Regions from separate parts of the Homo sapiens genome. Here region 1 is linked to region 2. Evidence: fine-mapped expression QTL. Tissue or cell type: lung. Region 2 holds a variant in brackets; the other region holds the start of a gene. All regions are shown on one strand. Distances are from middle to middle.

Region 1 (2,665 bases), 43 kb before region 2:
GCAACCTCTGCCTCCTGGGTTCAAGCAATTCTCCTGCCTCAGCCTCCTGAGTAGCTGGGATTACAGGCGTGTGCCACCACGCCCAGCTAATTCTTAGTAGAGACAGGGTTTTACCATGTTGGCCAGGCTGGTCTCGAACTCCTGATCTCACGTGATCCACCCGCCTTGGCCTCCCAAAGTGCTGGGATTACAGGTGTGAGCCACCGCACCTGGCCAATTTCCCCTTTTCACTGGAACACCAGTCATAATGGATGAGTCCACCCTTATCTTAACATCTGCAAGAACGTTATTGCCAAATAAGGGCACACTCTGATGTACCAGGGGTTAGGACTTCAACGTATAAATTTTGGGGGACACTACTCAACTCCCAACAGCTGGGTCTCCCATTCTGAGTTTTGGGGCACAGCTGTGCTCTGCCTAGGCATAGCTGATTCCCACCCTAGGAATTCCCACCTTGGGACTCACCATGTGAGACTTAGGAGGACAGTTCATCTCTTTCAGTTAAAAATTTTGTTTGTGGCTTGGAGAGTCACTTCAATACATGGATAATGATGCCCAAACCTGTCGGCAGCCTGCTTTCCAGCTGTGACCATGGCAGGTAACGAGCCTCCCTGAGTCTCCACTGTCCTCTGCCGACCAAATGGGAATCATAACAGCTCCTCTTATTATTATGCCTGAGACGAGGCAGCCAGTCTGGAGAGGGCCAACCTAGCACAGGACTGTGAGCACACACAAGACAATGTGGGCGTCCAACAGATCCTAGCTCCCTTCCCCTTGGAAGGCTATGCACACAGAAAATCTTTCCTTGGGTTGAGCTGAGATCTAGATGAGGCCAGGGGTCAGACGCGGTGAAGTACCAAGGTCACAGGGCTGTTATGGCATCGCACTGTGTAGAAGTCCAGTTTCATTGATCTCGGGATAGGGGCCGATTGGGGTCCAGTGGCTCCTTCGAAAGACCTTTTGCCCTTGGAAAATGAGATGTGACCTCAGGGATAGGGGGAGAAGGGAGAGGAAATGTGGAAACGGAGCCACACAGTCTTAGAGTTGCATAGAACTTTGGAACACCCCTATTGCAGGCCCCTCTCGCTACAGCTGGGGAAGCTGAGGCGGGAGGAGGGGAGGTACTGTGTCAAGGTCAAACGTTGGGTGGTGCCAGGCGACAGAAGCCAGGCCTTTGAGAGGCAAGGCTGTGGTAGAAATGAAAGGGGAGGTGGTGGGTGCTTCCAGGGGTCTGTGAGCTCCGTTCCCAAGACTGGAGGGGCCTGTGTCTGCGGAGGGGGTGGCTTCCTGGGCTCTGGAGGGGAGGGGAGGCTAAAAGCAGGGTTGGGGAGCGAATCTGGGGGATTGTGGGAATATCGGGCCGCGCCCCAGCCCCCAGCGATGCGTGGGGCGCCTGGAGAAGGGGCGCACGGGCAGGTGGGGTGCTGCGGGGCCCGCGCGTGGGGGCCGCGCCGGCCGGGGCGGGGTGAGTCACGGCCCGCCCGCTCCCATTGTGCGGCCCGGCGGCGGCGGCGGCGGCGGCGGCGGCGGCGGAGGTGCGGAGCGGAGCGCGAGGAGGTGGAGCCGCGGGCTGCGGGCTCCGGCGCCTGCGTCCGCCCGGCCAGCCCGGCTCTGCGCTGCGAGAGGCCGGACGGCAGTCGCGGCTGCGCTCGGGAGAGAGCGCGGGGGACATGGGGCGCGGCGGCCCGCCTGGGCCTCGCAGGCTCCGGAGCCCCGAGGTACCGCGGGGCGGGGCACGCCGGGCAGGGCGGGGGACCCGGGCTGTCCCGGGCGTGGCTGGGCCTCGGAGGGGCGCTTGGGCCGGGAGCGTGCATCCGGCTCCCGGGTGGGGGGCGCCAGCGCAAGGAACCTGACCCCGCCCTCCTCCCCCAGGGCTCCCCGCTAGGCCCCCTCAGTGGCCCCTCCTTCTCACCTGGGTCTCGGGTCCCCTAGTGAGCGAGAGCGTCCCCAGCCGCCTACCTGGCCATGGCCAACGGAGTGATCCCGCCGCCCGGGGGCGCCTCCCCCCTACCCCAGGTGATCGGCGCGCGCGGGGGCGGGGGAGAGATGGGGGAGGAGAGGGGAGGGACCTTAGGGTGGGCAGAGGAGTCCTCTGGCCGACCCCGGGACCCCCCAGATCCAGGGATGAGCTGGGCTGGGGGTTACGGAGAAAGAGGGGGGTTTTTGATATTTTCCAGATCCGTAGCCCTCTCTCTTTACAAGCTCTGGGAGCCCAGAGAGGGTGGTTTCTGGGATGCTGACACAGGCCTGGGAGCAAGGGGAGGGGGCCCGATGGTGTGAGAGCCTGCTGAGCTCCCCCAACTAGGGCTTGGAGTTGGGGTGGGTGTGGGGCCTTCATGGGTCAGGGGTCCTTAGCAGAGGCCGTCTGGGCCTGCAGGTCCGGGTGCCCTTGGAGGAGCCCCCTCTAAGTCCAGACGTGGAGGAGGAGGACGATGACTTGGGCAAGACCTTGGCTGTGAGCAGGTTTGGGGACCTCATCAGCAAGCCCCCGGCCTGGGACCCCGAGAAGCCCAGCCGCAGCTACAGCGAGCGGGACTTTGAGTGTGGGTAGCCTGGGGACCCCTAGTGCGGCCGCCCTCGCCACCATCACCTTCATCGCCACCATCACCGCGCTCACCTCCGGCTTGGTCACCCAGTGCCATCCTGTGCCGGACACTGTGCTGGA
Region 2 (2,851 bases):
GGTATCTTGGACCTCCAATTTCAGCTCTCCAAGGGAAACCATCCTGGAGCGGTTTGTGCCAGCTCTGAACAAGTCCTCTCTGAGGACAGGTAGGCTGCGGTCTCCACCAGAATGTCCTTCTTTCCTCCAATGTCCCTATTTGCACCTTTGGTATTCCTGTTACATTGGTCCCTGGGTGAGAAACCTTTGGGGCCACAGTTCAATTTCCCTTCTCTTTCTTTTCTCCACCCAGACAGTTATCAAGTCCTCAAATATTTTCTGTGCGATTACTAATATTACTAAATATTTTCTGTTCTCCATTCACACTGCCCTCTTCTTCAACCAACCCTTCATTCAGTAAATATCAAGTGCCTGATATGTGTTGGAACTCGACTTGTGTCACCTCATGCCTGAATCCTTGATCTGGAGTCCCCATAGAGTTAAGCATAATCAGTGCTCAGGAAGTATTTACTGAATTGATATAAGGGTGTCTCAGTCTTCTCTGTCCTGCTGCAGATGTTTTTTGTTGGCTTAGTGGGGAGATCAAAGCTCTCATGAAACCCTAGTCTAGCGGGAATCCCTAGAACTTCCCTGAAATTGACATCCTCACGGGCCTCAGGCCTGGGGATCCACCCCTAGCCCTTCCCTGTCTTCCCAAAACATCCTAAACTGGGAGTATGAGAGGAGGGCTGGACAGCTGTGGACTTTAATTCATTGAGTGCCCAGATGGTCAAATAAATGAAGGTATGAGTCTGCAAGCAGCTGAGGAGTGGAGTTATCGGTTGCTCACCCAAGATGCTTTGTCTTACCTCTTTGATTTCCAAGCTAATCTATCCCCTGCTTTTTTTCTTTAATCAGTTGACTGTTCAGAGATTCTTTTTGCATTGGGAGGATCTAAGTACATTTATTACTAAAGGTAATTAACAAATCATATGGAAATATTTATGTATTCAAATTCAATCCCTGTGTGAAGAAATACCTTGATGTAAACAGGGTGCTTTATTCTAGATAGACATATTTGTTCCTTGTTCATTGACTACATAATCAGACAATAATGCTGTGGGTGCACATTTGAGTTAGGGGGAAGAAGCCTCTTAACTTTCCATGGTACAATTCTCAGTAGAATCCCCTCCTGGTAAATATTTTTATTCTGGAATAATATGCCATAGTGTTTATAGAAAGATTTCTTATTCAACAGTAAAATGGTTGTATTATTTTGATTGCATTCTTAGTCCTTGGTAATTGTCTCATTTTTCTTTCATAAAAGGAACTCAGACACCTAACACAATTGTACTTCAACACCAATTCAGCTCATTATGAAGAATTCTGCCGATAGAATTCTGTGAGTTGTGAATATCTTCTTTGCCCACATTTAGTTTTCTCAAATCGTCTGTAATTCAT[G/A]GGTAGCACAGATGTTTCCAGCTGTTGGAAAATGAAGCTTGAAGTTCATGCCGATAAGGAGAAAAATATCTAATTCAAATTCCAAGAATTGTTTGACCTAAATCAATTTCAACTTGAGAAAACGGGGTCAACTCTCTGTACCCCACAAGAATCACCCTGGTGATTAAAAAGTAAATCTTGAAGAATTAAATTATGTTGCTGTTCAGCTTTCATATGCACACTTAGGAAAAAAAACAGAGCATCAAAGGCTGTTGGAATAACTCAATTTAGTGATGATGGCAGAGCGTTGCTGAAAAAGAGCTTTCTAGGCAGCGAGCTTTGCTCGGGGGAACTGCTGCAAACTTCAGTTGGTATCTGAGAGAAAAGGAGAGGTCTTTCAGATGAATAATTTTATGACTTTCAACCACACACATACAGCTTGAATATCAAATTATTTTAAATGAGAACTTCAAAAAGATCCACCTGTCAAATGAATAAAAAGCCCCAAACAGTTGCCTAACAGAACAAAGAGATTTGGATTCAAATGCCAAACAGAGATGGGACGAGGCGAGACTTTATTGTGCCGGCATCCCCAAGACACATGTATGAGTTAGAGTTCACCCTCCGATGGATGTGGGGGTCTCTTCATCCACTTGGGTTGCTATGACAAGATTCTTTGGGATGCGTAATCTATAAACAACAGAAATTTATTTTTCACAGTTCCGGAGGTTGAGAGATCTGAGATCAACAGAAGGGGTGAACAGCTTCCTTATACCTCTTTTATAAGGCCACTAATCCCACCCATGAGAGCTTAATCACCCCCTAAACAGGCCCCATGTCTTAACACATCACATCGTTGATTAGCTTTCAACCTATGAATTTTGCAAGGACACATTCAGGCTATAGTGGGGGGCATTGAGCCTCAGGATTTCAAAGATCATCAAATCCATCCCTCCTTGTTTCGAGAGTGAAAACACAGAGGCCAGAACACAGGTGTCCTGCCAGCTGCAACCCCACCCCACTCAGTGAGTCTAGACACGTTCCACGTTAGCGTTCTCTTGAGTAGCATGGAGAAAAATTAGTGATTGATAAAGTGCTCTGGTCTGTGGGACTAATGAAAGACAATGATTTATGTGTCACTCTTCCTAGATGATATTTGCATTTTAAAGGAGGGCTTCAATACCTTCGGCTCAAAGGAATGAGCTAAGGCAAGGATTTTCAGGCAACTGAATCAGAATGAGAGATTCCTCTCCTATCTTCCCCTCATATGTTTCATATCAAACAAACGAGTATGCATATATCAAGGTATCTACTGAGTGTTGTGGAGAAAGAACTGCCATGGATTGCAAGATTCTAATTCTTGTCCTGCTCTCATTTAAAACAACTTGAATATGATTCACCCATGTAATCCAAAACCACTTGTACCCCTAATGCTACTGAAATACAATTTTTAAAAAACCAATTTGATATTCAAGCAGGATGTATACACTTG

Direction of the effects. Alleles are on the strand shown, and positions count from the first base shown. SD is a standard deviation of normalised expression in the study named.
With allele G in place of A in region 2, the expression in lung of the gene that starts at base 1,603 in region 1 is higher (small effect, 0.32 SD a copy in GTEx).

The links. PIP is the estimated chance that this variant, and not a neighbour inherited with it, causes the effect.
Region 1: it holds the start of SLC4A3, and the variant in region 2 is fine-mapped to the expression of SLC4A3 in lung (TOPMed, PIP above 0.99).

Annotation. Positions count from the first base shown.
Region 1 is chr2:219,626,028-219,628,692 of GRCh38, forward strand. It overlaps SLC4A3 (solute carrier family 4 member 3), which reads left to right and starts at 1,603. Exons shown (of 23, transcript NM_005070.4): 1 at 1,603-1,718; 2 at 1,873-2,016; 3 at 2,378-2,543. The coding sequence starts at 1,966. LOC124908064 (a long non-coding RNA gene) reads right to left here and starts at 1,983. Exons shown (of 2, transcript XR_007088701.1): 1 at 1,913-1,983. RefSeq lists an enhancer at 2,106-2,665.
Region 2 is chr2:219,669,046-219,671,896 of GRCh38, forward strand. No RefSeq gene overlaps it. Among named protein-coding and RNA genes, the nearest start is that of SLC4A3, 43 kb to the left of the region's middle. The variant G/A (reference allele first, on the strand shown) is at 1,381.